Homo sapiens: one gene and its partners. The protein of the gene in region 3 interacts with the protein of the main gene of each other region in a pairwise test. Each region holds a gene or a part of one and is shown on either strand. Other genes may lie near its edges.

Evidence for each region.
Region 1: the proteins of RBFOX2 (region 3) and FAM168B interact in binary tests that used the Homo sapiens proteins (3 or more experiments, as listed by UniProt).
Region 2: the proteins of RBFOX2 (region 3) and QKI interact in binary tests that used the Homo sapiens proteins (3 or more experiments, as listed by UniProt).
Region 4: the proteins of RBFOX2 (region 3) and BOLL interact in binary tests that used the Homo sapiens proteins (3 or more experiments, as listed by UniProt).

What each region holds. Positions count from the first base shown.
Region 1 is NC_000002.12:131,089,894-131,098,043, reverse strand, and holds the start of FAM168B (myelin-associated neurite-outgrowth inhibitor), read left to right. Parts: upstream 1-4,583; 5' UTR 4,584-4,830; intron 4,831-4,881; exon of another isoform or gene 4,882-5,393; intron 5,394-6,080; exon of another isoform or gene 6,081-6,235; intron 6,236-8,150. UniProt on the Homo sapiens protein: Inhibitor of neuronal axonal outgrowth. Acts as a negative regulator of CDC42 and STAT3 and a positive regulator of STMN2. Positive regulator of CDC27.
Region 2 is NC_000006.12:163,409,750-163,417,717, forward strand, and holds the start of QKI (KH domain-containing RNA-binding protein QKI), read left to right. Parts: upstream 1-4,968; 5' UTR 4,969-5,215; coding exon of another isoform or gene 5,216-5,427; 5' UTR 5,428-5,444; coding exon 5,445-5,586; intron 5,587-7,968. Other genes in the region: basic proline-rich protein-like, read left to right, coding at 3,457-4,336, 4,500-4,919, 5,216-5,427. UniProt on the Homo sapiens protein: RNA reader protein, which recognizes and binds specific RNAs, thereby regulating RNA metabolic processes, such as pre-mRNA splicing, circular RNA (circRNA) formation, mRNA export, mRNA stability and/or translation.
Region 3 is NC_000022.11:35,759,427-35,767,275, forward strand, and holds part of RBFOX2 (RNA binding protein fox-1 homolog 2), read right to left. Parts: intron 6,058-7,849; coding exon 5,997-6,057; intron 2,043-5,996; coding exon 1,989-2,042; intron 1,869-1,988; coding exon 1,776-1,868; intron 607-1,775; coding exon of another isoform or gene 595-606; coding exon 462-594; intron 1-461. UniProt on the Homo sapiens protein: RNA-binding protein that regulates alternative splicing events by binding to 5'-UGCAUGU-3' elements. Prevents binding of U2AF2 to the 3'-splice site.
Region 4 is NC_000002.12:197,767,889-197,775,737, reverse strand, and holds part of BOLL (protein boule-like), read left to right. Parts: coding exon 1-73; intron 74-3,755; coding exon 3,756-3,883; intron 3,884-7,849. UniProt on the Homo sapiens protein: Probable RNA-binding protein, which may be required during spermatogenesis. May act by binding to the 3'-UTR of mRNAs and regulating their translation.

The DNA of each region.
Region 1 (8,150 bases), on a different chromosome or scaffold from region 3:
ATAGATGTGTAGTTTTTTGTTGTTTGTTTTTGGTTTTGTTTTGTTTTGTTTTTTGAGATGGAGTCTCACTCTGCTGCCCAGGCTGGAGTGGAGTGGCATGATCTCGGCTCACTGCCACCTCTGTCTCCCAGATACAATCGATTCTCCACCCTCAGCCTCCCGAGTAACTGGGATTACAGGTGCCCACCACCATGCCCAGCTAATTTTTGTATTTTTATCAGAGATGGGGATTCACCATATTGGCCAGGCTGGTCTCGAATTCTTGACCTGTGTTTTAAGACAGAGACTTGCTTTGTCACCCAGGCTGGAGTGCAGTAGCATCATCATAGCTCACTGCAGTCTCCAACCCCTGGGCTTGACAATCCTCTCACCTTACTTGCCCCCTGCCAGTAGCTGGGACTGCAGAGTGCACCACCACATCCAGCTAATTTTTGTTTTGTTTTTTTGAGACGGAGTCTTGCTGTTCTGTGTCGCCCAGGCTAGAGTGCAGTGGTGTGATCTCGGCTCACTGCAACCTCTCCCTCTCAGATTCGAGCGATTCTTCTGCCTCAGCCTCCCCAGTAGTGGGGACTACAGGCACCCGCCACCATGCCTGGCTAATTTTTGTATTATTAGTAGAGACGGGTTTCACCATGTTGGCCAGGCTGGTCTTGAACTCCTGACCTCAGGTGATCCACCCACCTCCGCCTCCCAAAGTGCTGGAATTATAGTTGTGAGCCGCCGCACCCGGCCTGTGTGTGTGTGTGTGTGTGTGTGTGTGTGTGTGTGTATATATATGTTTTTTTTTTTTTTTTTTTTTTTTTGTAGAAAAGGGGCTCTTGATATATTACCCAAGGTGATCTTGAACTCTTGGGCTCAAACAATCCACCCGCCTTGGTCTCCCAAAGTGTTGGAATTATAGGCTTACAGGCATAAGACACTGCACCTGGCTGATGTTTGCTTGTTTGTTTATTTATTTGTTTTGAGACAGTCTCCCTCTGTCACCCAGGCTGGAGTGCAGTGGCGTGATCTCGGCTCACTACAACCTCTGCCTCCCGGGTTCAAGCAATGCTCCTGCCTCAGCCTCCTGAGTAACTGGGATTACAGGTGCCCACCACAACGCCCGGCTAATTTTTGTATTTTTAGTAGAGACGAGGTTTCACCATGTTGGCCAGGCTGGTCTGGAACTCCTGACCTCAAGTGATCTGCATGCCTCAGCCTCCCAAACTGCTAGGATTACAGGCTTCAGCAACCACACCAGGCCAGATGTTTAGTTTCACAAGAAATGATTAGAACTTTATCCAAAGTGATTATACCATTTTGTACTCCCATCAGAAATATATATATTTTAAATTATTACTATTTTTTGAGACGGAGTCCCACTCTGTTGCCAGGCTGGAGTGCAGTGGTGCGATCTTGGCTCACTGCAACCTCCGCCTCCTGGGTTTAAGCGATTCTCCTGCCTCAGCCTCCCCAGTAGCTGGGACTGCAGGCGCGCCCCACCACGTCCAGCTAATTTTTGTATTTTTAGTAGAGACGAGGTTTCACCATGTTGGCCAGGATGGTCACAATCTCTTTTTTTTTTTTTTTGAGCCAGAGTCTCGCTCTGTCACCCAGGCTGGAGTGCAGTAGTGTGATCTCGGCTCACTGCAACCTCCGCCTCCCGGGTTCAAGCAATTCTCCTGCCTCAGCCTCCCCAGTAGCTGGGACTATAGGCACGTGCCATCATGCCTGGCTAATTTTTTTGTATTTTTAGTAGAGACGGGTTCACCATGTTAGCCAGGATGGTCTTGATCTCCTGACCTCGTGATCAGCCTGCCTCAATCTCCCAAAGTGCTGGGATTACAGGCGTGAGCCACCACGCCTGGCCAAGATTTTTATTTATTTTTAATTTAATTTTAGAGTAGGTAATGTATTCACGTGGTTCAAAAATTAAAAAAAAAAAAAAACCCAAACATGAAAATTATCTTTCTCACCTCTGTCCCCTATCTGCTCAGAGCCCACTTTTTCCCAGTCTCACCACAGATAATCATTGCTGGTAGATTTTTGGCTATTTTTTGGTATTTCTGTAAATATGACAATATTCTGTAAATGTAAGTAAATACAGATATATTTTTTCATTTCTACCTTTTTACATAACATTCTTTTTTTTTATTTTTTATTTTTTGAGACGGAGTTTCGCTCTCGTTGCCCAGGCTGGAGTGCAATGGGGCAATCTCGGCTCACTGCAACCTCCGCCTCCTGGGTTCAAGCAATTCTTCTGCCTCAGCCTCCCGAGTAGCTGGGATTACAGGCATGTACCACCACGCCTGGCTAATTTTGTATTTTTAGTAGAGACGGGGTTTTCCCATGTTGAGGCTGGTCTCGAACTCCTGACCTCAGGTGATCCACCCGCCTCGGCCTCCTAAAGTGCTGGGATTACAGGCGTGAGCCACCGTGCCCGGCTTTACATACTATTCTTACACAGAGTTCCATACCTTGGTTTTTTTTCATTGAATAGTCTACCTTGGAGATATTTTCATTTCAGTACATACAAAGTTTCCCCATTTCTTTTTCAAGTTATAGGCTATTTCACTGCATGATGAACCAGAGTTTACTCAGTCATTTCCCTAGGTGTGGACACTAGGGTTTGTTTCCAGTATTTTGCTACTATGCACAATGCTGCAATTAATAGGTGTGAACTCATTTTATTTCACACATCTATAAGTATCTCTGTAGGCAAACTCCCAGAAGTGCAGCTGTTGAATGAAACATTGTTTGTGCGTTTATTTTGACACACATCATCAGACGATCCCCTTTCCCATCCAGCAATGTCTGAGAGTGCGAGCTTCCTGGCAGCCTTACCAATAGCATTGTCAATTTTTTGGATGTTTGCCAATCACAGTGAAAACTGCTACCTCAAAGAGTTTTAACTTGCATTTTTCTTTATAGAAGTGAGATTGGATATTTTTCATATGACTAACAGCCAGACTTAGTCCTTTGCTGTGAACTCTCCTTTTTCTATTGGGTGGTAGGGCTTTTTATTGTTGACTTCTGGAAGCTTTTGGAATATTAAAGAGATTAGCTTTGTCTATTACATGTGTTGGGACTATTTCTTCCTTGTTAATCATTTATCTTTTGACTTTGCTTATGGTGCTTTTTGCCGACCAAAGCTTTTCATAGTCATGACTTCTGGATTTCAAGTAATAATGTAGAAAAGCCTTCTTTACTCCAATACTAAAAAGGAATTTCCCCATGTTTTCTTCTTGTCCTTTTATCACATTTATATTTTATTTTTATTTTTTTTTTTGAGACGGAGTCTTCCTCTGTCGCCCAGGCTGGAGTGCAGTGGCCCGATCTCGGCTCACTGCAACCTCCGCCTCCCGGGTTCAAGAGATTCTCCTGCCTCAGCCTCCAGAGCAGCTAAGGTTACAGATGTGCGCCACCACGCGCAGCTAATTTTTGTATTTTTAGTAGAGACGCGGTTTCACTATGTTGGCCAGGCTGGTCTTGAACTCCTGACCTCGTGATCTGCCCGCCTCGGCCTCCTATAAGTGCCGGGATTAAAGGCGTGAGACACCGCGCCCATCTGTTTTTATTTCATAAACGACTGAAAAAAGACCAGAGCCAGGCCTCCTCCCTTCCATCACTAATCTTTATTGCAATAACTCCCTCCTTTGTCGTCCTGTACCTAGCTCAGACCAGACGACACCCCAAACACAAACACCAAGACACGCACCTCTTTAATACGAAATAATAAACATACCTCCCCCAGAGAGACACCCTGAACTAACCAAATCATTGTAACTATACACTAAGCCTTACATAAAAATACTAACATTTGGCCGGGTGCGGTGGCTCACACTTGTAATCCCAGCACTTTGGGAGGCCAACGTGGGTGGATCACCTGAGGTCACGGGTTCGAGACTAGCCTGACCAACATGGTGAAACCCCCGTCTCTACTAACACAAAAATTAGCCAGGTGTGGTGGCGGGCGCCTGGAATCTCAATTACTCAGGAGGCTGAGGCAGGAGAATCGCTTGAACCCGGGAAGCGGAGGTTGCAGTGAGCCAAGATCGCGCCATTGTACTCCAGCCTGGGTGACAAGAGCGAAACTCCGTCTCAAAAAAAAACCAAAAAACCCCCTAACATTCTAGTACACTTCCCTGAACTCTTGTCTATAGAAATGATCCCGCACTTCTACACTTGAAACGCTGACTTGCATTCTCTAAAATCTGCACTCCTGAGCGGGCGCCCGCAGCCTCCGCACTGGCAAAGAATCTGTGAGCTGAGCTCCGCCCCGCTCCGACCCCGTAGTGGCGGTCACCCGGGGTGTGCTCGACTCCCGGGTGCGGCCTGAGGATCCGCGCCCTGGCGTCTGGGCACACACAAAGGTTTCTGCGGCGCGGGACTATCTCAAAATATAAATTAAATACTTTTTTCACAGACAGTTAATAAAAAAACTACAGCTACACCCGGCCCTTTCGCCAACTGGGACCGGCCCACTCCGCGCTCGCGCTCGCGCTCGTCCATCCGGGCGTCTCGAGGGCGCCGGCGGGAGCGAGCACGCTGCGCAGTCACGTGCCCGGCGCGCCCCCGTCGCGGCGCGCTCAGGCGGAAGTGAGGTCGGCGGCTCCGGTGGCTGCGCAGCGTCGGCGGGGAGCGCGGGCTGCGGAGAGGCGGGCCGGGCCAAGCGGAGCCGAGCGAGCGGGAGCGCGGCGTCCGGGAGGCGGCGGAGACGCGGGGCTCGGAGGGTCAGCCTCTTATCGTAGCAGGTCTCCTCGGCACGCCCCCCTTGTTTCGCCCCACGGCCAAGCCCGCCGCGGGCCGGCGTGCGCTGGTCACTGAGGCCCAGGTCGCCGCCGCGGCGCGGTGAGTGGGGGCGGGCAGCGGGCGACTGCGCGTCCAGGCCGGAAGTGCGGCGCTTTGTGCGGCCGGCTCGGGGCGGCGCCAAGGTCGGCCCGCGGCTCGGGGTCGCTGGGCGTCTGGACCGGCCTGGGCTGCGCTTTGTGCCGCGGGCAAGGCCGGGCGGGGGCCGGGGGCGGAGCTCGGCCGGACACGTACGCGTGCAGGTGCGGTCCGGGCGGCGCGGGCCTGCCGCCTAGGTGGCCGAGGTGGCTTCGCGGCGCGGGGCGTTCTCCTAAAGGTCGGGGTCACAGCCGTCAGGAATGCGAGCGTGAAACCCGGGGGCAGAGCTTTGTGACAATAGTCATTTCCAATGTGTAACTGCTCACTTTGTCTACCCACGAAGTAAAGATAATTTTTATTTTTATTTTTTTGCTTGGCGGAATCTGAGCGTTCTCCTTCCAGCTTGAAAAGGCACGATTTAAATTACAGATTTTTAAGATTTCCTTCAGAAAGGACGTTTCGTGGCCTAGCCTGGGTTAACTTTGAAAAAAGAGTGCAGTGCGCCTTTACGACGTCCACAAATAAGGGTATTTCTGTTTTATAGTGTATGTGAACATGAAGTGTGCATCTCATGGGCTGTTTGAGTTAATGTTTAATCATTAAAGTCAAACAAGAATATTTTGCAGTGTTTTCGCATGCAAGGAAGCTTTATAAATAAAAAGGTTTATATAGTTTCCACTCCTTAAACTTTCAGGTCATCCTTGTGTAATTTGAGATCACTTTTCTCAAATACTATGGATGAAAGATTCTAGATTAAATAAAACTTTTTGGTTTTGGCAAAAACAGGACACATTTTTAAGCTCTTGTAGATGAAGGAGTGGGTTATTTTTGCTTTGACAGCCAAGATTTGAGCAGTGTAAGGCTATTCTAATTTTGAAGCTAGTGTTGCAGAAATTGTGAAGATCTTGCTTCTCTTTGTCTTTACAAAGCAGGCTTACTTTGGTGGAGTTCCGTAGTTTAAAGGGAAATTATACCCAAGTTGTCTTAGACAGTTTCTTTTCCTGGATCAATTGAGCACTTTTTTTTTTTTTTTTGAGACGGAGTCTCCCTCTGTTTCCCAGACTGGAGTGCAGTGGCGCCATCTCGGCTCACTGCAAGCTCCGCCTCCCGGATTCACGTCAGTCTTTTGCCTCAGCCTCCCAAGTAGCTGGGACTGCAGGCGCCCGCCACCACGCCTGGCTAATTTTTTTGTATTTGTTTTTTTTTTTTTTTAGTAGAGACGAGGTTTCACCGTGTTAGCCAGGATGGTCCCAATCTCCTGACCTCGTGATCCGCCCGCCTCGACCTTCCAAAGTGCTGGGATTACAGACGTGAGCCACCGCGCCTGGCCGAGCACAATTTTAAAAGAACAGTACACCAGCGTAATAGAGTAATAGTTTTTTCATGCCTTGTGTCCAGTCTGTTAAGTCTGTCTGATTGTACTGTGCAGAAATACATGAATTCCTCCCAGTAAAATGCAAACCCAAACCTTGGTAATGAAGGTAAAGTTTGGGGGAGAGAACTTCTTTTCTTTTTTCTTTTTTTTTTTTGTGAGACGGAGTGTCGCTCTGTCGCCCAGGCTGGAGTGCAATGGCGTGATCTCGGCTCACTGCAACCTCCGCCTCCCGGGCTCAAGGGATTCTCCTGTCTCAGCCTCCCGAGTAGCTGGGATTACAGGCACACACCACTGCGCCCAGCTAATTTTTTGTATTTTTAGTAGAGACGGGGTTTTACCATGTTGCCCAGTCTGGTCTTGAACTCCTGACCTCAGGTGGTCCACCTACGTCGGCCTCCCAAAGTGCTGGAGACACCACCGCGCTCGGCCTATATGCTTTATTTTTTATTTATTCATTTATTTTTTTGAGACAGTTTTGTTCTGTCGCCCAGGCTGGAGTGCAGTGGAGTGATCTCGGCTCACTGCAACCTCCTCCTCCCGGGTTCAAGTGATTCTCCTGCCTCAGCCTCCGGAGTAGCTGAGATTACAGGCACATGCCACCCTGCCCAGGTAATGTTTGTGTTTTTAGTAGAGATGGGGTCTCATCTCACTATGTTGGCCAGGCTGGTCTCGAACTCTTGACCTCAAGTGATCCACCCGCGTTGGCCTCCCAGAGTGCTGGGATTACAGGCGTGAGCCACCGTATCCAGCTTCTTTTTTAAAAATATATTTTTGTCCAGGTGTGGTGGCTCACGCCTGTAATGCCTGCACTTTGGGAGGCTGAGGCTGGCATATCACGAGGTCAGGTGATCAAAACCATCCTGGATAACATGGTGAAACCCCATCTCTACTAAAAATACCAAAATATTAGCCGGGCATGGTGGCAGGCAACTGTAGTCCCAGCCACTGGGGGAGGCTGAGGCAGGAGAATGGTGTGAACCCGGGAGGTGGAGCTTGCAGTGAGCCGAGATTGTGCCACTGCCCTCCAGCCTGGGCAACAAAGCGAGACTCCATCTCAAACAAAAAATTTGTATATATTATACATATATATGTTCATTTTGTAGAGATGGGAGTCTCACTATATCGCCCAGGCTGATCTCAAACTTCTGGGCTCAAGCAGTCCTCCTGCCCCAGCCTCCCAAAGCACTGGTGTTACAGGCACTTGCCACCAAGTCTACAAGCTCTTGTTGATGTTGCCAGACATTACTGAGAATTTCCAATGTTGATTTTTCTGAGTATTGTATCTTGTATATTGGTGTTTCTGAGAGTGAATCTAAACCTCTTAAAATTAGATTTGTTGATATAAAATTTTAAAGGCCTCGTGTTATAGTATTTCATACTTAGTGCTCTGTGTGGAACTTTGTTTAGAGATGGTATGTTTCCAAACCAGGAAACAATAGTATATAGTGATAGGTCTTTCTTTCTTTTTTTTTTTTTTTTTTTTGAGACAAGAGTCTCGCTTTGTCGCCCAGGCTGGAGTGCAGTGGCACGGTCTGGGCTCATTGCAAGCTCAGCCTCCTGGGTTCACGCCATTCTCCAGCCTCAGCCTCCTGAGTAGCTGGGTACAGGCGCCTGCCACCGTGCCTGGATAATTTTTTTTTTTTTTTTTTTTGTATTTTTGGTAGAGACGGGGTTTCACTGTGGTCTCGATCTCCTGACCTCGTGATCCGCCCTCGTCGGCCTCCCGAAGTGCTGGGATTACAGGCGTGAGCCACTGCGCCGGCCTCTTTTTTTGAGATGGAGCGTCCATGTCGCCCAGGCTGGAGTGCAGTGGTATGATCTCGGCTCACTGAAACCTCTGCCTCCTGGGTTCAAGTGATTCTCCTGCCTCGGCCTCCCAAGTAGCTGGGACTACAGGTGTGCACCACCA
Region 2 (7,968 bases), on a different chromosome or scaffold from region 3:
CCCCCGCCGCCATCTCCGCCCACTCCCCATCCCAACACACACACAAATCCCAAGGCTCTTCCCCTACAAACACTCTAGTTTGATGTTCAAGGCCAACCAAAATCTGGCATCAAATACTCTCTGTGGAAACTCCTACCCTAACACCTCGTACTTTTCCACTTCCCAAGTTCTGTCATTGCTGTCTCCCAACACTCTTTGCTCCGCCTCGAGATCAAATCCACCTCCCCGGTGTGGTCTTACAATGGCTTCCGGGCAGGCAATGTTGGTGCTCACCGGTATTTTCACAGCATTTTTGTCTTTAGCCTTTACGTGGCAGTTATTAGTTAACTTTTTAAATGTACCTGCACATGCTATTAACTCCCAGCTCAGCCTGTAAATGCCTTAGGGTTAATGATATGCATTTACATATAACAGGTACTGGAAATATTTAAGATATTCACATTTGAAATGTTTCATTTTCAATCTTTTAAATAGTACCTGATAAGCCATCTCACAATTTAAAAGTAAAAAAAATTTTAAAAAGTAAAAAAAAAAAAAAAAAGCGCCATCTCGTAATTTAAAAGGATGCTCAAATCTATTAAGACAATAAACAATTATTTTGCGAAGATACCAAGAATGCCCCAATTCCTTTTAGGAAAATCTAAAGACTAAGATTTTTAAAAAGAACACTGGGACAAAAAGCCATAAAACCCTAAATCTTATATCCAAGGAACATTATAGTTCTTTCGAGAACTCTATGGTGATAAAGAAAGGTTTGGAATACTGCAAATTTCTATTTTAAATGTTAAGAATAGCAATAAGCAAATAGAGCCAATCAAATTTAACAGAATAGAAAATATGTTTCCACGCCTGGTTAATTACTGATGTTAGAATGTGGAACCATTTTTAGTGTCAACATATTAGATGACAATTTTTCACAGTGAAAAAACCTATTATAGGGATCTTCAACTGGAGGCTCATTCTGTATATATACTCACTACATGTTGTAATTTATTTTCAATACTGTATTAAGATAACATTTTTGTAATAATGTAATTATTACAAAGTTAGTCTTTCTACATTTTTTTTTTTGAGACGGGATCTTGCTCTGTTGCCCAGGCTGGAGTGCAATGGTGTGATCACAGCTCACTGCAACCTCTGCCTCCCTGATCCTCCCACCTCAATCTCCCAAGTAGCTGGGTCTACAGGTATGTGACACCAGACTCTGTTAATTTTTGTATTTTCTAGAGAGATAGGGTCTCACTATGTTGCCTAGACTGGTTTCAAAATCCCGGGCTCAAGTGATCCACCTGTCTTGGCCTCCCAAAATGCTGGGATTACTGGCACAAACACCGCACCCGACCCTCTGCAGCTACTTACTCCTCCTAAGCATCAGCCCTCTCATCTCTGAAATATGGCTCTTCCTGCCTACCTCAAATATTGGCTGTAAGGATGAAAATAAACAATGAAGATAAGGGTTTTGCAGAGCTTCTGGTCCATAACAAGTACTTAATACTTCTTTTGGACATATATTTAATAAGTGCCTACGTGTACCATATGCTGATCTAGGTGTTGGAAATTCCTAATAGAAGAAACTCCTTTTTCTCATGGAGCTTACAATGTTGATGCCAGTGGCAAACGAGTTGACCCATTGTTACGTGGAAACAAATGGTATGAAAAGAACCTGGGGTAAGCAGATGGAAGAAGGGAGGAAGTGTTTGCGTGCACAAAGGCGCCATTTTACATAGGGTGTTAAGGGACACCTTCTAAAGATAAATAGGGGCAGGGGTCGCCGATGTATGGGGAAAAGCTTTCCGAGGAGAGCAAACACCAAGGGCAGAGTCCTGGGGAGGGTAAGCATGCTTGGAATATTTAAGGATCCAGACGGATTCCACGGGGGTGCAGCCAAGTGGGCTGTGGGAGGAGAAGGACATAAGGTCAGTGATGCACCAGGGGCACACCTGTCGTCTTGCAGGACTTGGTAAGCTCTTCGGATTTTTTCTTTCTTTCCTTTTTTTTTTTTTTTTTTTTGAGATAAGAAACCATTGAGGGACTGTCAGGAAATGAGGTGATCTACATAGATTTGAAAAGGTAACCTGCCAGGCACGTGGCTCACGCCTGTAATCCCAGCACTTTGGGAGGTTGAGGGGGGCGGATCACCTGAGGTCGGGAGTTCGAGACCAGCCTGACCAACATGGAGAAACCCCCGTCTCTACTAAAAATACAAAATTAGCTAGGCGTGGTGGCGCATGCCTGTAATCCCAGCTGCTCGGGAGGCTGGGGCAGGAGAATCACTTGAACCGGGGAGGCAGAGGTTGCAGTGAGCCGAGATCGCGCCATTGCACTCCAGCCTGGGTGACAAGAGCGAAATTCTGTTTCAAAAAAAAGAAAATTAACACACAGTAGCTATTATCAAATGCTGTAACCGTAAGTGATTTAATACATAGGAAATGAAAATTGCCTATCATTGTTCTTTAATCTGGTTTAAGTGGTTGAGCCTTATGACACTGCCATTTCTATGGGTCAAAAATGGTGGAATATTGTCATAAAATTCAACCTGATTTAAAGGATAGGGCAAGGAAAAAAAGCAAAAAAAAAAAAAAAAGCTTTAGAATAAAATATAATTGGATTATAATCCCAGACACAGGACTCACTAGCTATATTCTTGGGCAAGTTACTTAACTTCATCTTTCTTGGGTTTCCCCTTATTTGTAAAATGGGGATAACAGTCTAACCTAAGCCCAAGTTGTACTGATGATTAAACGAGATATGCATGTAGGGCATTCAGCATAGTGCCTAGGAGCTTAATAAATAAGCAGGCCATTAAGAAGGGGATTGCATCTTTTACACTAGCAGCATCAAAACCTTGATTTTGATTTTTCTAGGTACTGAAACAGCCTTCATTACTTAGAGACCATAGCTTTTTTGCAAGTTACTATTCCCTGCATTTAGAAAGTTCATCTTTAAACAGGCAATTCAGTAAGTAAATATTCTATGGCTCTAAAACAGATACGGCTGTTGGAGACTTTAAAACATCTGACAGTTACATTTTTAATGTTGTCTACCAAGGCTATTACATTTCCTCTGTCAAAGTAACTTAATTTTAAAAACGAACTCTGTGCTTGTTAAACGAAAAGGCCAGAAGGCTACTGGCTACTCAGCGTTCATTTGAAATTCTTATAGTGCCTTCAGTACAATTCAAACTTAGAGGTGATTCTCACAATTCATGTGAAGCAACATTTTACAAAAAAAATCACCTACGTTCACTGTTAAGTCAGAAGACAGAATGATTAACAAAATCTCAGCCGCGAATTACTCTCACGATGGCCAACTGGATATTAAATAACTCTGCATTATTTTAATGGAATGTTATAAAGGATTTGCAACAAAATGCAGACGTAGATTTAGGGACTGCCGACTTCTATAGATCAAGGACTTCATTGGTGCAGCTGAGGAAATTCTTCCAAACAAGTCTAAATGTTGGAAATCCACCAAACTGCAGAGAAAGACCTCTTGCCTCCGTATTCTTTCTTCATCTGTAAAAATGTTGACTTCTGCTTTTCAGACTACGCGCACAGCCTCTTTATTTCCTACTGCGGCTTCATTCCCTCACGGAACACTGACGCCATCGCGAAGGAAGCATTTCGAGCACGACTGACGCTCCCCTTATTATTTGCTAAGCCGCTGCGCTCGGGTCTGGCTACGATTTGCTTTCAGAATAACGGGAAGGTGCAACAAGATCGCTTCCCTAGAGGCGCGTCGCCCGCGTGGCCCGGACCCCCCACGCCCGCCCGCCGCCCCGTGGGTGCGCACGCGTGTCCGCGCAGGCTTCCCGCCTGGCGAGTGCAAGGCTCCTCTCCGCCGTGCTGCTTTCCAGCCTCTCAGCAAATCACGAACACCGAAAGAAGCCACGGCGGCGACGGGAGGGGCGTCGCGCGTGCTTCCCTCGGCGACAAAGCGGGAGCCGGGCGCGCCGGCCGAGGGCGCCCGGCGCAGAGTCCCGCAGAGGCGGACGCCGCGGCACGCGCCTCGAAAAGCCTCAAACTCTTATCCTCGGCTCTCCCGCCCCACCTCCGCCCCGCAGCCAAGACCCGCGCCGTGGCGGGCCCGACGGCCAAGGAAAGCCCACCAGCCCTCCGCACCGTGGGCGACGGGCCAAGACCCGGCCCTAAACGGCCAGACCCAGCCCCTAGTCGGCTGCCGCCCCCGCCCCACGCAGGCGCGCTCCGGGGCCCTCCCCTCCCCCACCGCGCGCTCGCGGGGCCCGACGGGGGCGGAGCGACCCTCGGAAGGGGCGTGGCGACCGGGCTCGACGCGCGCACGCGCTCTGGAGCCCCACGGCTACGTGTCGGGCCACGTGATGCCCACCCCGAAAGTCCCCCGTGAAGCAACAGGACGTTAAAAAAAAATTTCTCTTCTGCGGGGTGGATAAGAGGTTCTGAAAAAACTATAGTAACGGGAGGCGAGGCGGAGGCAGCGCTGGCGCGTCCCGCTGGAATTCCTCTCGCCTGCCGCGCCAGCCCCGACCGCGCCCGCAGCCCCACCCGCCCCGTGCCGTGGAAAGCCCCGCGCCCCCCCCGCGGCCGTCGGCCCCGCAGCCCACACCCACCCGCCCCGGGCGCCCCGCACGGCGGCGACCCAGTCCTTGCGCCCAGGCCCGCCGAGCGCCGCAGTCCGTCACACTCCCGTTGCCCCCGTCGCCCGCCCCGCCGGGGAGGCAGGGAGGAGGGGGCGCGGCGCCGGCGGCTGCCCCGGTCGCGGGGCGGCGGGCAGCAGGCAGCGGGAGCGCGCCGGCCGGGACCCGCTAACGGCCGCCCTGCGCGGCCCCGCCCGCCGCCCGCCCCCGGCCCTCCCCGCGCCGCTGCCCCTCCCCCCGCCGCCGCCGCTGCTGCCGCCGCCGCTGGCAGCGCCGCCTGAACTGAGGCGAACTCCGCCGCCAAGTGAGTGAGGAGGAGGAGGAGGAGAAGGAGGAGGAGGAAGAGGAGGAGCGCAGTCGGAGCGCGGCGGCAGCGGCAGAGGCGCCGCGGCGGGGACCAGCCCAGAGAGACCCCCCGAGCCCGCGGCACAGGCGGCGGCGGCGCTGAGCGGGCTCGACCAGCCGAGCGAGCGGCGGCCCCGGCTCCTCCTCGTCCGGCGCCAGCAGCCCGCGCCCCGCGCCCGCACTCGGCCAGCCGAGACCCGCCTCCCGCCCGCCCGCCGGCCTCGTGAGGGACGCGCCGAGCCGGGCGGCCGAGAGCGGCGGCGGCTGGGAGCGCGTCGGGCCCGGGCGGAAAGTGCCTGCGGGGGGCGGGCGAGCGCGCGGTGCCGGCCGCCCCGGGGCTCGGCGCGGGAGCCAGAGCGGGAGCCGGCGCGGAGCGGGACGCCGGGTCCCGAGCGGCCCGCGGCCGGGGCTCGCCCCCGCCCCTCCCTCCTCTCCGGCGGCGGCGGCGGCGGCGGCGGGCGGAGTGAGCTGCGGAGCCTGGAATATGGTCGGGGAAATGGAAACGAAGGAGAAGCCGAAGCCCACCCCAGATTACCTGATGCAGCTGATGAACGACAAGAAGCTCATGAGCAGCCTGCCCAACTTCTGCGGGATCTTCAACCACCTCGAGCGGCTGCTGGACGAAGGTGAGCGTCTCCAGGGCCCCGGCCCCGGCCCGACCCCCGCCGGGGCGGCCCCTTTCCCCGCTTGGGATGGTGGGGAGGGCGGGAAGGTCACGGCCGGGCGGGACCGAGCGCCGGGGGGACTGGGAGGCCAGGAGGGCGCACAAAGGAGGTGCCGGGCCGGGCTTGCGGCGGGCGGGCGGGCCGGGGTGGACCCGCCGGTGCCGGACGCCCCCTGCCCGGCCGGGACCCCGCGCCGCTGGCGTCCAAGTTGGCGCGTTGCGGAGGGCTGCGGGGTGAGCCCTGCGGCCCCTCTAGCTTCGGCGGTCACATTTCCGAGAGGTCGGCGGGGGCTGCGCGGACTCGGTGGTCCTCGCCGAGCCCTCCCGAGAGCAGGCCCACGCCGCGCCGCCGGCCTGGAGGACGCGTGTGCCCGGCGCGGGCCCCGCTCCTCCGCTCGGCCTCCCGAGCCTGCTCTGCGCGGACCCCCACCGCCCCGCGTTCGGGAGCTCTCCCCTCCCGTGAGGACTAAAGCGGGGTTTCGTGGTTGGGGAGTTGGTGCAGCTGTTCAATACTAAGTGGAAGTCAGTGTGGGGCTCGTTAGTTTAAAGAAATTCCGTAGGAGACCGAAATTATGCTGGCGTAGCCGACAAGGAGGACTAAGTGACGGCGAAAAGCACTTTTTTCCCTTTTGTTTGGGGAAGCGAGAACTGTTAGGGAGTTGAACTTCACTTTTCGGGGGTGGGGGGGGGGGGGGTGGAGTGCGAAATAACGCGATGACAGATCGGAGCGCAGCCTGAGTTAGAAGAACTTGGGCGGAGGGTTTGCTCCCGGGGACGCAGCCGCCTGAGTTTGTAGGACAGGGTTTCGAGACGTTTGGAAAGGGCGAAATAAAATTGAGCCAAAGTTTCCAAAAAGCTGTATGGAGCGCTGTGGGGAGTGAAGAATGACAAGAAGATTAATGTTGACCAACTTTGGAATTTCCTTAAGAAGTTCTCATAGCAGTACCTGAAGTATTAATTTCTAGTAGCTGTGGGTTTCTGTGGACGCCTAGAGAAAAAAAAGACCACAAAAAAAGTCTGTTTCGAAAATCGACTGGCCAGGAGTTTGTTTGTTTTTTTTTCCTGCTTAGAGGCACCACCGGAGGACTGTGTAAAGGAAACTGAAAACTACAGGTTGAAGAGATGAACAATGGAGTTTAGATTTTTCGCAAGAATTTCGAGATTTTAAAAATAGAGTCGGGGAACAGGAGTTTGAAGCTTGGGGAGTTGGAATGTCACTAGAGAACAAAAGGCCGGAAATGTTTCCATGATAAAAAATGGTTAAAGAAAAATCCCAGGAGTTCTGTTGTCTTGAAAGTCATAGAAACAACTTAAAAGTAGAAAATGGTTAGGTGTTACGGCTTTCTCGTCGTTTTGCTTCCGTATGTTAAACATACAGCACTCACCAACGTTGAAATGGGCATTTTCCGCTGTTGGAACAGCAAATCTGTTAATTTCAAGTTGCTCCAGAGAAAACCTGAGCTGTCCCTTTAAGGGGTTCTGCTTTTCCTATTTGTGTTGGCATTTGAAAGATTGTGGAGGCAGAAAACTTTCTGGAATGTCAAAAAAAAAAAAAAAATGCTGGAACTCTTAAATTGAGTATTTCCAAATGTGAGCGCTAAGGGGCGCCAGTTATTTTTTAACCATGGAAATGGTTGGAACAAAATGTGTAACATACTCAATCTGACTGACCTATATTAAATTTAGTTGAAACTTAAGTTATAGATTATTTGATTTGTCATAATGTGTTTATATAGTGTTTTCGAACATTGAAAATACTTTCCTTAAAATTATTGGCACAACTTTATGACGTTTCAAAATAACACTCTTACTGTCTTCTCCTTGGCATATTTTGGTTAAGTTAAAGTTTTAGTAGTATTAGTAACAATTTCTGGTGAAAGTTTGTTTTCTTGAGTGCAGTTGTTTAGAAGGAATCCTTTATCGACGATAAAATGAAAATAGGCCTTGGCAATATTTAGGGTTAATTAAAATTAAATTGCATTCCTGAAATGTCGAATTCAAAGACTATAGGAGATTCCAAAAAAAAGTTTGAAAATACTTTCACCTTATGTATACTATTTAAAAAGCTGCATACTTTTGCGTTCTTTAGTTTTAAAAGGCTTCTTGTGCTTTTATGTTGATCTAAAATCTCTAAATTTAGAGCTGATTCCTTGTTATCAAGTTTCCAACCTTAGGCTTTAATAATTTTTAATCTTTCAAATCCAGAAATTTCAATTATGTCATTGTCTCTGACAAAGGCTTATTTCTCTCTGGTTGGAAATAGTACTCGTTTGCGTTTTAAATGTAAGAGACCACTATGATATCTCCTAGATAATGTTTGTTTCCCCTTCCCCTTTTAATGTGG
Region 3 (7,849 bases):
CCCAGGCAGTGAAACCAAAGGGGAGGACACATGTGACAGCCTCTGCCCCAACACGGGGTGGTGATAAGGAGGTGAACACAGCAGATGCAGGCTTGTACTACAATCTTGAGCTCCTCTTTTGGTTCTCTGCAGTAATGTTAATCCATATTCGTGCGCTTCTGAGTGAACTTCATGCCAACACACTGCTAGTAAACACAAGACGGTTCTGGCTACTGTCTTAAGCCATTACCATGAGGGCTTAAGGTGGCCAAAATGAAGACTTATAATGAATTGACAGTTTGTCACATTCTGATGATGGTATATTTTGTTTTTTGTCATCTAATCTGTTAATTTGCAAATATTCACTGAATGCCTACTCTGTGACACGGCAACATCCCAGAAGTTATGAAAGGGCCATGGTATTCTTTTTTGGTCCAACTGCTTATTTTAGAAACATACTGATTTTGGAATCTAACGCTTACCCTGGATAGGCGGGGATGGCTGTTGGAGGTACCGCTCGGACTGCACCATATACTGTCCGCCCTCTGCCCCTCAAATGGGCTCCTCTGAAAGCGGCTGCCGTGGTGGCTGCAGTAGGGTAAGGGAAGCCAGGAACTAAAGGGAGACCCAAAATATGACAGAAATTTCAACTTGCATTCAATAGAAGGTGCACAGTCACAACTTGCTATGAACCAATTATAGAAAAGATGGAAAGATACGAACCACACCTTTTTGGAAAAGGTGGCATGCATTCAATAAACGTTCTACCCTGGGTCTCTCAGTGGGGAAGAAATGGAAAGAGAGACCCAACATGCAAAAGCAAAAGATTCCATGCCTCATTCATCACAAATCTTGAGTGAGCTTCTCTGTTCCTTCTCAATTTCAGCTTTACAATGCAAGCTGCTGAGAAACAGGTCAAGAAGCTCTGAGAATGACTGCCATAATAAGAGACAGACTTTTAATTACTGTGGGCAGTCTAAATCAGATTGACACAAACTCTTCAACCGGTCAGTTATTAACCTTGCTTCCCAATGTTACTATGTCCACATAATAATTATTACTCAAAAGAACATTCTTTTTATATTTTTACATGGTACCAACCTCTAAGGCACATAATAGTCTTTAGACATTTCATTTCATTAGTCAATTTCATTCTTTTATTTAAAACATTTTAATCCACAAATGTAAGGTGAGGGAAACAACTCCTACCCTGTCCTTTAAAGAGGCAGACAATTTCTAGGGGCCTCATATCCTTTAAAGAGGCAGACAATTTCTAAGAGCCTATTTTAAGTGTGCTGTCCTCTGGAAAGCATGCAGAGACATTGATTCCATGTCCACTGAATCCTGTTTAATTATACCTCTTGCTGGAGTAAAATGGCTCAGGTCAAAATGACTTAGAGAGATCAAGAGAGCTGGGAATAATCAATAATACTGGAAGTACTTCTAAGTGATCCTCTGCTGGAGAACCTGTGGCTGACTCGCAGAGGAAATGTATAATATGCTCTACACATACTTGCTTCTTTTGTTTTCTTTATCGTCAAGTACAGACTAAAATATTCTTCATATGCCCTTACCCCCTCTACCTTTTCCAACTATTTCTGCTTTGTGCAATCTTAATATTTGGTCAGGAAAATTCTAGCACAGGTTAAGCAGGACAGGGCACTGGGATAGTATTTAATATCCCTCTCAAGAAATTTCCATTTCAGTTATGTACTGTACTAGGAAAAAAAAAAACAGTACATGATAGTTCACTCACAACAGTCAAAATCCATGCCAGGCCAACATAGGCTACTTACTGATTAAAGGAATGTAAGTGTTGATACCCCCTCTTCCTGATAGGGGCACTGCTGCATCATTGCCTAGGGACACATCTGCTTGAAAGCTGGATGCTGATTGGATTTTTAAAAAATTTAAAAATGCAAGAAGATTAAAAAGGAGTCACAAATTGAAAAACAGCAGATGCTATTACAATTAAATAGCACAAGTGGAAACATTTACTTAAATACTACCTGCATATAACTCCGGACCATATACAGCTCCAACTACTGGGCTTAATTTCCAACCTGAAACACACAAAATGGAAGGTAAGCATTTAAGACTGTTTGAGGAAAGGGATGATCAGTGCATGTCAAGTTGGCTTCAGCCATCTCTGGGGCTATTTTTGCCTATTATCAACTTCTCTTTGGAATTCCAGCTTGGGGTTTATATGAGAGAGTAACAGTAGTAGAACTAGGACACAGTGAAGAGATAATGAGGGGCTGGGGCTGGGGGGCTTGGCAGGTGTCATGATGTTGGGAGGAGGAAGATGGAGAGGGAATGAGAGGAGAAAAAATAAATAGAAATAAATCCTAGAGTTTGGTAAAGTGTTCTCACAGAATTACCCTGGATGACCTATCCTTCATTTAAAAAAAGAAGGCCGACTATATGTCACTCTGAACCATGCTGTGATGCATTTTCTCAACCCTGTTTATTACTCTAGTTGTTTTAATAAAGGTATCCATGGGCTGAACTCAAATTCAACCTAGATCTTTGACTCCATGTTTGGCTATACAATGCTGGTATTCCAGGTAAACTGAAATCCACTTTTACTCGGATTTACCATTGGGATTTTACTGGGGTTCACCAACTAAAAAAGGAAAGACATGAAATAGTAAAATTCAAGGTACATTCCCAACTTCAGTGCATGTTTTCTGAGGCTTTAATGTGTAATAATCACCTTTAAGTTAATCAGACTTCTTAGCTAAAGAACACCAGAATACTGTGGAACATTAGCTTAAATATTTATAAATATTAAGAGTTTCCAAATAACATTATGTTTAATGTCAACTTTATTTCTTCTTTCCCTTTTTTATATTTATAGGAATATGGCAAGTATTTTTTAAAAAGGAATAATATACGATTGCTCACTGCGAGTGAATAAAAGTAGAATTCCACATGAAAACTTTAATCAATATTAACTGAATTTTACATATAAGCAAAAATACTCTATATTATATATTTTCTGACTCATTTGTCTTTTTATATTAAGACCCTAGCATTGTGCCACACTATTCTATAAATATACGAATGAAAAGAAAAAGGCCAGAATTGGCCTCCTCTTTTTTTTTTTTTTTTTTTTTGAGACAGAGTCTTGCTCTGTCACCCAGGCTGGAGTGCAGTGGCGCAGTTTCGGCTCACCACAACCTCGGCTCCTGGGTTCAAGTGATTCTCATGCCTCAGCCTCCCAAGTAGCTGGGACTACAGGCACGTGCCACCATGCCTGGCTAGTTTTATACTTTTAGTAGAGATGGGGTTTCACCATGTTGGCCAGGCTGGTCTTGAACTCCTAACCTCAGGTGATCCACCCGCCTCAGCCTCCCAGAGTGCTGGGGATTACAGGCTTGAGCCACTGCGTCCAGCCACAATTGGCCTTTTCAAAAGAATTATTGAAATTACCAGATTTAAATGACTGTAAGCAAGACATTATTCAAGTGAAAACCTATTCACTCTGATTCAATCCAATCTCTTATTCATCATTTTATGTGCTCATAAAATGCAATGTCTCTTCAATATTCCACATAAAATTCTGGCAAAATCTAGGTTCAAATCCTACTTGAATTGTAAGAACACAAATATTCTGCAACATCAAATTACACAAATACTGTGCAACATTTCTGCACAAATTAAGAGATTCCAACCAACCTAAATGAGAATGCTGACTGAGAATTCATTAGGAGGAACCCAACAAATTCTTCTTAGGACCTTTAACACAATAGCAGAAGGTTTCTTGCCTACTAAACCTGAATATTAATTTAGAATAATATTTTAAAAAATAACCTTTTTCTTTCCTACCAATGCCACTATTGCCTGAGCATTCCCTTTAAATCCACATAATGGGCAGGCACCGTAGCTCAAGCCTGTAATCCCAGCACTTTGGGAGGCTGAGGCGGAGGGATCACCTGAGTCTAGGAGCTCGAGACCAGCCTGGCCAACATGGCAAAACCTCGTCTCTACTAAAAATACAAAAATTAGCCGGATGTGGTGGCACACACCTGTAATCCCAGCTACTCTGGAGGCTGAGGCACGAGTATCGCTTGAACCCGGGAAGTGGAGGTTGCAGTGAGCTGAGATCGCACCACTGTACTCCAGCCTAGGTGACAGAGAGACTCTGCCTCAAAACAAAAACAAAAATCAATATAATGGATGTATATTGACATGTTGTTAGTAATACTTTGAATATATTTAGTTTTAGAAAATTTACAATGTATTTTCACAGATGCCCTTTGACCTTCACAAAACCCAAAGAGGAAGGTAAAATAGATACCACATCTGCAATCTGAGGTCAATACTATACTTTTCTGGGTCTCATTTCCTAATAATAAGCTGGGAGGGTTGAGTTTCAATAATTTCTTAAAAAATCCTGGTGCCAAAAATCTGTGGTCTCAATTTATAAATATGAAAACAGAATTAGGTTAAAAAACTGGTCCACTGTCACGGAGTAAATAAAGAGTCAAACCTAGAAGGAGAACGTCTGTTTTCTGAATTCCAGTCAGAGGCTCTTTCTGTCACAATATTTCCCTTAGATGTAAAGAAAATTTGACATTCTTTGCCTCTCCTTTCTATTTTGTTTACTTTGAGTTTTTATCAAAATTGTAGAGACTTGTTTTTGTAAGAGCAGTGAAAAGAAAATAAGAGGTAAAGTGGGAGGCAGTGGTATCATACCGATAAAAGGAGTAAGGAAAAATGCAAATTATGCTGATAAATTTGTATCATCTATGTGAAAAGCTGGGCTAAATATATTTATTGAAGACTTTATGGGATATAGTCAATACGGATACATTTCTCCTTGATTTAAGACATTATTAGCACATACAGCCATACTCTAGCAGTGGGTTCAAACTTTTTAAAAAAACAGCAGAGCCAGGCATGGTGGCTCACGCCTGTAATCCCAGCACTTTGGGAGGCCACGGTGGGCGGATCACGAGGTCAGGAGGTTGAGACCATCCTGGCTAACACGGTGAAACCCCATCTCTACTAAAAATACAAAAAATTAGCCAGGTGTGGTGGCGGGCGCCTGTAGTCCCAGCTACTCGGGAGGCTGAGGGCAGGAGAATGGCGTGAACCTGGGAAGCAGAGCTTGCAGTGAGCCTTGATTGCGCCAGTGCACTCCAGCCTGGGTGACAAAGCGAGACTCCGTCTCAAAAAAAAAAAAAAAAAAACTCCAGCAGAAACTCCCCCCTTTATTCTAGATATTAGTAAAAGCTTATGCAGAACCCTAATTGCTCAGACTAAAGTACAGCTGAGACCTCAGAATTCAATCCATTTGGTTTCCTTTTTCTCTCCCAAACTGGCTCTGCAGAACAGTCTGCAAAACCACCACTGGGCTACAGATTAAATTTATATTCCATCTCATTCAGAGACCATGAGTCTAGATTAAATTTGGTAACTGATGTAACAAATTATTCATAGAAAATTTCCTTCTCAATGAGAAAAACTTATAAACCTTACTATATAATATGTAATCATGAAACAGAAAATGATACACACACAACCATACCCATGGCTGTTATCTCTAGGGCTAAGGAGAGCAACAGGTCCAGAATTATAAAAGTGATTAAAATATCCTCCTAATTTATTCCACTTATGCTCAGATGAATGAAAGTCAGAACTAAAAGTAAGAGTCAGTGGGCATCCAGGGGTATTACGGACAAGTCTAACATATTAGAAAGAGCTACAGCAGCTGAAAAAGAAGGTGCTCAGGTGGGATCCAATTTGGGTTAATAGGCAACTAGATAGCATGTTTGCACTGTGTAAAAGATGAACATTACTTAGAACATAACACCTTAATAACTAAAAACTTAGCTCAATTGTAATGACAAAGTTATTCTGTAAAAATAAAATACTCTCCCAGGTAAAGAGACTACTTCAACACAAATCAAACTGTCTTAAGACGGAAATAAAGACATTCTTAGAAGTTTATAAAAACTTCATATATTTACACAAGAATAAACACTCTTTCGAAGATTATAATTTCTTACCATTTGCATATGGTGTGACCATCTTCTTATTGGTCATTACACGTGCTGTAGCATTATTCACCTAAAAATAACAAGGAGAAAAAAGGGCAGGGAAGAAGTGGACCACATTAGGGAACATAAAGTTGCACATCCAATAACAGAGTATTTAGTTTAAAATGTAAATTTCTGAGAGCAGTGATTTAAATAATTAACACAGCAATATAAAATATTAATATATAGTATTTTAATTAAAGTTCTTATCAAATGAGGATAACAAGAGTAAAGTGAGTTTCTTGGTTTCCAAATATCAGTACTCCAAAGAAAATACATTTGCAAGATCTTTGGACATCTTTTTAACAGAGAAATCTCTGCACTAAGGAAAACACAGAAAAAAGTAAATAGGAAACTATATTAGCAATTCACTTTGAAGTCTGTTAATAAAACAGAGGCTTGCCACATGGGTTATGAAATAGATTGATGGAAAGGTGATAAAATAAATCTGATTTCACCTGTCCTAATGTTCAGCATTTTAAATATGTCTGTCAGAGATTTTTACTGTCTGAGGTAAGTAAACAAATATAGAAACCTAAGATTCCCCTGCTGACAGCCTTCAGGACCATTCTGAATTTTCTAGACTACATGGTCTATCAATTTAAGAACAAAGCTTTTAAGAAAGCCTTTAAAGTAGGCACTTAAAAGAATTGAGAAAATAAAGTGTTTATTTATTTTGTTTTATGGTACTCTCCACCCTCATTACAGAACTGCATATTTTAAAGCATTCTCAGTGCTAGAGTAAGTAGGTGTTACAAAGATGCTGCTGCTGAAGAAAAGATGAATGGAACTAAGATGTCAGCATACTGCAGCCCAGTGACAGAACCAGTCTCAAAGCTCTTGCAAGGAGGGTAAAGCTCCACCATAGAACTTGACTTATACTGTGTTGTCAGGTCATAAAACATGCCAATTGAAAAAAGAAGCATAAAATATAAATGTCTTATTTTTGCCTCTTCAAATTTACATTGTGTTCAATTTGTATGGTAATAAATTTTTGTTATGAAAAGACCAATTTTAGGTAGAATTAGAACTAAAAAAAAAACCTCTTCCTATGTCTTTTAAGATTTGTACAGTGATAATCCCCCATATGAGGAAAGAGCTTGAAACTCCATTTACTCTAGCTTCGCCCACCAAATAATATAAACGTTTCACATTTAAAAAGAAAGAATGGGATACAACAATGATGAGACTGAGAGCATGCAGTTAAAAAACACACACACACAAATAAAAGAAAGAAAAAACAATCAATTTTGGAAAGAGGGGAGAAACTGAAAAGCAAGGTTCTCACAGACAAGGATTAGAATGGAGCAAGAGCTGAAACCAGCTGCTGGAGCAGAAAGCAACCAAGCACTTAAAAGGAAAAATGGCCAGAACCAATCAGAAACCACCAGTCAGCAAAAGAGACCAACAGCTGCGTGTAACTGAAGGGATGGGAAAGGAAGAATAGGGAAAGGGACAGGAACAAGGATCCGGAAAAAGAGAGTAAGGTAGGGAAAAAGAAAAGAGAAAGTCAGGAAGGGTGTAACGGGCAAAGAAAGAACAGTCAGAGCTACAAACGGGGGTTTGGGAAACAGGAAAAGTAGGGAAGGATGTAGGGGCAGGAAGTGCATTAATAAAACCAGCCAAACTGGAGTTCAGTAACTCTGAGTAAGATGTGCAAGGGGAAAAAAATCACCATGAAGTCAGTAATCAAACAGCTCAGACCGCTACAAAACAATATGTACATCCAAAATCCAGGCGGCATTACTCAACAGCATTGAAAATAAAAGGGGGAAAGGAAAAGGAAGAGGAACAACAAGTCAAATCACATTTTGTAGTGTTAA
Region 4 (7,849 bases), on a different chromosome or scaffold from region 3:
GAAAAACTTAATTATAAGGATAAGAAGCTGAACATTGGTCCAGCAATAAGAAAACAACAAGTAGGGATCCCTCGTATGTATTGAGAACTAATGTATTTTTAAATATTTTTGCATGGTTCTTTTTTGAAATATAAGACTTTTTATAGAACTTTATTAAAAGATCATGTTTCTTTCATCTAATAAAGTTATTTTAGCAAAGTTGGTGGAAAAACTGAATATTTTTGCCACAAAATAATATATCTCAATTTTTTTGGCTGGGAAAAAATTTATATACATAAAGATGCTTAAGTATATTCCATGTAGTTACATCATTAAAGGAAAAAAAATCTTTCGTGATGAAAATATCATTTAATATAGCAAAAGTAATTAGAAGTAATTTAATAATTTAGACTTACTAATGAGAAAAATTTTAATTAGAAACTAATTTAAAATTAATCAGAGTAAAAATATTGAAAGTGAAAACATAGAACTAATATCAGAAACTCGCTGCATGCTGTGTACTGTAACCCAGCCAGGTGTGTCATAATTTTCAGGGGGACAATCCCTAAAGCTTTAGGAATTGGCTAAATTATGTATCTACCTTCCTCAAATTTCTCTAATGCTTTCAATTCTATCTTTCCTCACTCTTTCTACTTATTAAGTTAGGCATCTTTATAGTTAACTTTTTACCTTTAATATTTATTAAAATTCCTAACAGTCTTTGGCTAGAAGGAGAAATGTGATGTAAAATTTATAACTAACTTATTTTCCCTTAGCCACATCCTAGTGTCTACGGGAATGTTTAAAACATTAGGTTATTATATATAATCTGTTAACAAATTAATAGATTGTATTCATTTGGACTGTTATGCTTTTGACTTAGAAATAATAGATATTTGGTTAATACAGTTGCCACAACTACAACAAAAAAGAGATTGATGTATATTAAGTTTAATTTTGACTTAGTATTTGTTAATTTAGGAGACAATCAAAGTATCCTCAGTAGGTTAATACAAAATGGAATGCACTAAATATGGCAGAATGCTGAATATTTTCAATCTACTGTTGTTACTTGCAAAGGTTAAGCTAGAACATATAGTAACGGTCCGTTAGCCCATTATCACCAGCAATATGTACTAAATAGTAATGCTCATAGTATGATCTACCAGTTGCTGAAATAGAAAATAAATCAGCACTATGCTGAATGCTTTCACATATACAAATAGTTTTTTCAAAACTACTTAGTGCAAGGGTCAATGTTATGAGTTTTCATTTAATCTTCATAGAATCCCATGATGTATTGTTATCTCTATTTTTGTAAATAGAAAATTCAATCCCAAAAAGATAAAGTCATTGTTTTAAAAATGTTTCTGCTGAAATACTCCTAAAGGTAGAGGAGAGTTAATCTTGGCATGTTGTGGTTCCTAACCCACTGCAGCATACTGGAATTGCAAATTTTCTTTAAAGTCTCATGATTTATGCAAAAACATCATGTATAATTTGCATTCTGTTCCATAATATCATATTGTTTATTTGAATATAAAAATATTTCCCAAAAACAATTGAATAAAACTGATTCTGTAGGAAGATTACTATGTTCAGCCTCTGCTTTTTCATATCTCCTGGTATACCATCCATCCCTTATCCAACTTTAAGAAGTATGGGGTTAAATAGCCTAATGGTGAGTGGTAGCACTAGCCTTCAAATGCAGGACTGTTTGACTCCAAAGTTCTTTTGACTTTTCTGCGAAGAAAAATAGGTGTTAAAAGTACATTTACAAATAAGGGATTCTTATCTTAGTTTTTTCTTAGATCTGTCATTTCTTTCCATCTCCATTACCAACACCCGAGTCCCAACTAACCACTTTGTTTACCTTAATTCCTGGAAAAACATCCTAAGTGGTCTCTCTGAATCCAATCTTTCTACCTTCCAATCCATCATTCACAAGGCAGCCAGAGTGATCTTTCAAAAGTGCACCTCTTATTGTCTTATGCTCAGCTTATTTTGAGGTATTCTTCCCTTTTCTTTCCATGCTTTAGCCATGTAGCCTTCTTTCAGTTCCAGAACATTCTATACTCCTGTTCTCAGAATCTAATATACTGTTTTCTTTACCTAGAATGTACTTTGCCATCCAATTCATTCTTTAGAGCTTAGCTGAACATCATTTCATCACAAATTTTCCATATATATGTATATAGAGAGAAATTTTATATATGTTTTGTATACATAATAATTGAAATGTTCAGTATCGTACCCTATAATGCCTCATGTATTTATCAAAATTGTATTTAATTAATTAATTGTGTAATCAACTAATGACTATCTTCACTACCAGACCTAACTTCTTTGAGGATACAGACCATCTCATGTCTAATTTTTTTATTTTTTGCTGTATCACTAGGGCCCTGTTCAATGCCTTGAAATAGTATGCACTGAAAATTTATTTATTTAGCAGGTAAAGCATGGTTCATTTTCTTTGAATAATGAACCATTATTGAATAATGAACCATTATCATTATCTTTGAATAATAGTGGAATATCTTTTGGGGGGAATCCATGGACCTCCAAAATTGTGTGTAAAATTGTGTTTGACTGTATATATATCTGAGGAAAAGGTCCCTGATTTTCATCAAATTCTCAAAAGGATCTAATTAAGAACCATTAAAATAAATAATAACAATACTAGATCAAATGCAGTGAAAATATAAAAGCTGAGGAGCAATAGTATTATTTAAAGTGGTAGGCCCATGCTATTTGAAGTGTGGTTTGCAGACAGTGTCATTTCATTGGAAGCTGTCAAAATGCAAATTCTTAGGCCCTGTCCCAGATTTACTGACTCAAAATCTCTGAAGATAAGTCCCTGGAATTTGCATTTTAGAAAACAATTTAAGTGATTCTAATTTATGGGAAATTTTGAGAAGCACTGGTATAGGTGGAAGAATTGTCAGTTTCACTAATTTATATAACCTTGCTGGTTAAGACCTAATCTAATTTGGCTAATTTAACTTTTAAAGTCTCCTCAATGACAAAAAATATATATATATCTATGTATATTATTTACTGTTTTTTGGTTTGTGGTGGGGGTTTATATAACTTGGCCCGGGAAAAGAGTTGGGGACCCCAGACTAGCCACATGAAGACTTGCGGTCATGTTTGCAACAGCAGCAGTTGTAGCAAAGGGAGACTAGATAGAGAATAGATCATAGAAAAGAGAGATAAAAGACAGCCATAGCATGAACGAATGTTTGCTGGTAGGATATCCAAAGAATTAGTAGGGTGGAACCAAAATGTCTTCAGGAAAGTAGAATCTTCTCCAACTTTACTGCCTCCATCATCTTTGGACTTTCAGAAATAAAAGGTCTAGCCAAGACCTTAGGAACTTCACTACAGTGTATGTTGTCTTGAAGTAACTTTAAATTATACATAATTTATATTTGTACAAATAATTACTTCGCTGATGATAGTCTAAATTGTTCAGCTTTGTGTAGCATACTGGTGTTGGAATCTGAATTGATACATTTTTGGTATTTCTTATTCGTATTGTTTTTCTTTTCTTTTAATCATCTTAAACTAAAAGCTTTAAGGTATTGAGTTTAAAAATACAGGCTTCAAAGATACTTTGACATAAGGAATTTTTTAAAAATATCTGTGACATTCAATTTTTACCATAGCTACATAGGTATATTAAGATAAATATTTTTCTGAAGTGTTTAGAAACTACATTTTTAACAGTTAAATTGAACATTTCAATTATTATTATTTAATCTTTGCTTTAGGTTCTAGTATAATGCCAGCAGCTGGAACAATGTATCTAACAACTTCAACTGGATATCCTTATACTTACCATAATGGTGTTGCTTATTTTCATACTCCAGAGGTAACTTCGGTCCCACCGCCTTGGCCTGTAAGTAATTTCATTTAAAAAAGGATTTCCATCTATTACTATCAATTTTTTAATGTTTGTTATATTTCTGAAATATCTTAACCACAGATAATTACAAATAATAACACACATCAACCAAATTAAATAGACATCAACATTTTGCCACATTTACTTAAGTTCTTAAAATGGGGAGTAAAGTAAGACAGCTTCAGGTCAATTCTCCTTACCCCCACTTCCTTACCCTCTTTCCTGTTCAAAAGTAAGCAGAATATCTTTCCTATTCATTTTATATATTTTTACTACAAATATATGTATTCATAAATGACATATAGTACTGCTTTAGTGGTTTTTATTTTTTATTTTTTGCATTTCTTTTTTTTATATACTTTAAGTTCTAGGGTACATGTGCACAACGTGCAGGTTTGTTACATATGTATACATGTGCCATGTTGGTGTGCTGTACCTGTTAACTCGTCATTTACATTAGGTACATCTCCTAATGCTATCCCTCCCCCCTCCCCCCACCCCACAACAGGCCCTGGTGTGTGATGGTCCCCATCCTCTGTCCAAGTGTTCTCATTGTTCAATTCCCACCTATGAGTGAGACCATATGGTGTTTGGTTTTCTGTCCTTGCAATAGCTTGCTCAGAATGATGGTTTCCAGCTTCATCCATATCCCTGCAAAGCACACGAACTCATCCTTTTTATGGCTGCATAGTATTCCATTGTGTATATGTGCCACATTTTCTTAATCCACTCTATCATTGATGGGCATTTGGGTTGGTTCCAAGTCTTTGCTATTGTGAATAGTGCCGCAGTAAACATACGTTTACATGTTTCTTTATAGCAGCATGATTTATAATCCTATGGGTATATACCCAGTAATGGGATGGCTGGGTCAAATGGTATTTCTAGTTCTAGATCCTTGAGAAATCGCCACACTGACTTCCACAATGGTTGAACTAGTTTACACTCCCACCAACAGTGTAAAAGTGCTCCTATTTCTCCATATCCCCTCCAGCACCTGTTGTTTCCTGACTTTTTAATGATCGCCATTCTAACTGATGTGAGATGGTATCTCACTGTGGTTTTGATTTGCATTTCTCTGATGGCCAGTGATGATGAGCATTTTTTCATGTGTCTTTTGGCTGCATAAATGTCTTCTTTTAAGAAGTGTCTGTTAATATCCTTCACCCACTTTTTGATGGGGTTGTTTGATTTTTTTCTTGTAAGTTTGTTTAAGTTCTTAGTAGATTCTGGATATTAGCCCTTTGTCAGATGGGTAGATTGCAAAAATTTTCTCCCATTCTGTAGGTTGCCTGTTCACTCTGATGGCAGTTTCTTTTGCTGTGCAGAAGCTCTTTAGTTTAATTAGATCCCATTTGTCAATTTTGGATTTGTGGCCATGGCTTTTGGTGTTTTAGACATGAAGTCCTTGCCCATGCCTATATCCTGAATGGTATTGCCTAGGTTTTCTCCTAGGGTTTTTATGGTTTTGGGTCTAACATTTGAAGTCTTTAATCTATCTTGAATTAATTTTTGTATAAGGTGTAAGGAAGGGATCCAGTTTCAGCTTTCTACATATGGCTAGCCAGTTTTCCTAGCACCATTTATTAAATAGGGAATCCTTTCCCCATTTCTTGTTTTTGTCAGGTTTGTCAAATATCAGATGGTTGTAGATGTGTAGTGTTATTTCTGAGGCCTCTGTTCTGTTGGTCTATATCTCTGTTTTGGTACCAGTACTATGCTGTTTTGGTTACTGTAGCCTTGTAGTATAGTTTGAAGTCAGCTAGCGTGATGCCTCCAGCTTTGTTCTTTTTGCTTAAGATTGTCTTGGCAATGTGGGCTCTTTTTTGGTTCCATATGAACTTTAAAGTAGTTTCTTCCAATTCTGTGAAGAAAGTCATTGGTAGCTTGATGGGGATGGCATTGAATCTATAAATTACCTTGGGCAGTATGGCCATTTTCACAATATTGATTCTTCCTATCCATGAGCACGGAATGTTCTCCCATTTGTTTGTGTCCTCTTTTATTTCGTTGAGCAGTGGTTTGTAGTTCTCCTTGAAGAGGTCCTTCACATCCCTTGTAAGTTGGATTCCTAGGTATTTTATTCTCTTTGAAGCAATTGTGAATGGGCGTTCACCCATGGTTTGGCTCTCTGTTTGTCTGTTATTGTGTATAGGAATGCTTGTGATTTTTGCACATCGATTTTGTATCCTGAGACTTTGCTGAAGTTGCTTATCAGCTTAAGGAGATTTTGGGCTGAGATGATGGGGTTTTCTAAATATACAATCATGTCATCTGCAAAGAGGGACAATTTGACTTCCTCTTTTCCTAATTGAATACCCTTTATTTCTTTCTCCTGCCTGATTGCCCTGGCCAGAACTTTCAACACTGTGTTGAATAGGAGTGAAGAGAGAGGGCTCTACGCCAATAAACTAGAAAATCTAGAAGAAATGGATAAATTCCTGGACACATACACCCTCCCAAGACTAAACCAGGAAGAAGTTGAATCTCTGAATAGGCCAATAACAGGCTCTGAAATTGAGGCAATCATTAATAGACTACCAAATAAAAAAATTCCAGGACCAGACAGATTCACAGCCGAATTTTACCAGAGGTACAAAGAGGAGCTGGTACCATTCCTTCTGAAGCTATTTCAATCAATAGATAAAGAGAGAATCCTCCCTAACTCATTTTATGAGGCCAGCATCATCCTGATACCAAAGCCTGGCAGAGACACAACAAAAAAAGAGAATTTTAGACCAATATCCTTGATGAACATTGATGCAAAAATCCTCAATAAAATACTGGCAAACCGAATCCAGCAGCACATCAAAAAGCTTATCCACCATAATCAAGTTGGCTTCATCCCTGGGATGCAAGGCTGGTTCAACATCACGAATCAATAAACATAATCCATCACATAAACAGACCCAACGACAAAAACCACATGATTAATCTCAATAGATGCAGGAAAGGCCTTCGACAAAATTCAACAGCCCTTCATGCTAAAAACTCTCAATAAACTAGGTATTGATGGAACGTATCTCAAAATAATAAGAGCTATTTATGATAAACCCACAGTCAGTATCATACTAGATGGGCAAAAACTGGAAGTATTCCCTTTGAAAACTGGCACAAGATTTTTTCTTCTTTTTTAGTTTTTTGTTTTTTACTACAAGAATATATGCTATTTTTTATTTTTAATGCTATAGTATTGCCACTTTTCACTTCTAGATCTTAAATCTTGAATTTATGTATCGACTAATCCACCTATTTCCTGCTATTTTGAAATTAATCCTCTGCCAAACACTAAGTTTCCATGTGTGTGGGTCTTTTTTCTGCTATTTTGTTCCATTGGTGTATTTGTTCACCTTGCCCAGTTGTAATTATTTTGACTTTATAACGAGTCTTGAAATCTTAAAGTACATTGTTCATCTTCAGGAGTCTCTCATCTATCCTTATGTCTTTGCTTTTATGTGTATAAATTTTTTAATTCAGTTTGTTTAGTTCAGTGAAAAGCCCTTTTTTTTATTAGAATTGCATTAAATAGTGTGAATAACTTGGGACATTTCAGTATTTTAAAATATTGAATCTTCCTATCCATGAACATGATACATCTCTCCATTTATTTGTCTTATTTTACTTCTATCCATAAAAAAGTTTTCTTTCTCCATAAAAAAGCGTGACACATTTTGTCAAATTTATTCTTAGTAGACTATAGTTTTGTTGCTTTAATGAATGCTGTTTTTTAAATAACATTTCCTAATAGATTGTAGCTGGTGTATAGTAATGCTCTTGATTTTTCAATAGTGATAATCTATCAGTAACCCTGCCAAACTCTCATTTACACAATTATTTATGATTCAGTGTACTTCTATTTCTTTCACTTCTTTTTTTCCTGGAGTTTTTGCACTGACCATGTCTCTGCTACAGTATTGATGTAGTGAAAACATCATGACCTTGTTCTTGAAAAAGGGAGCA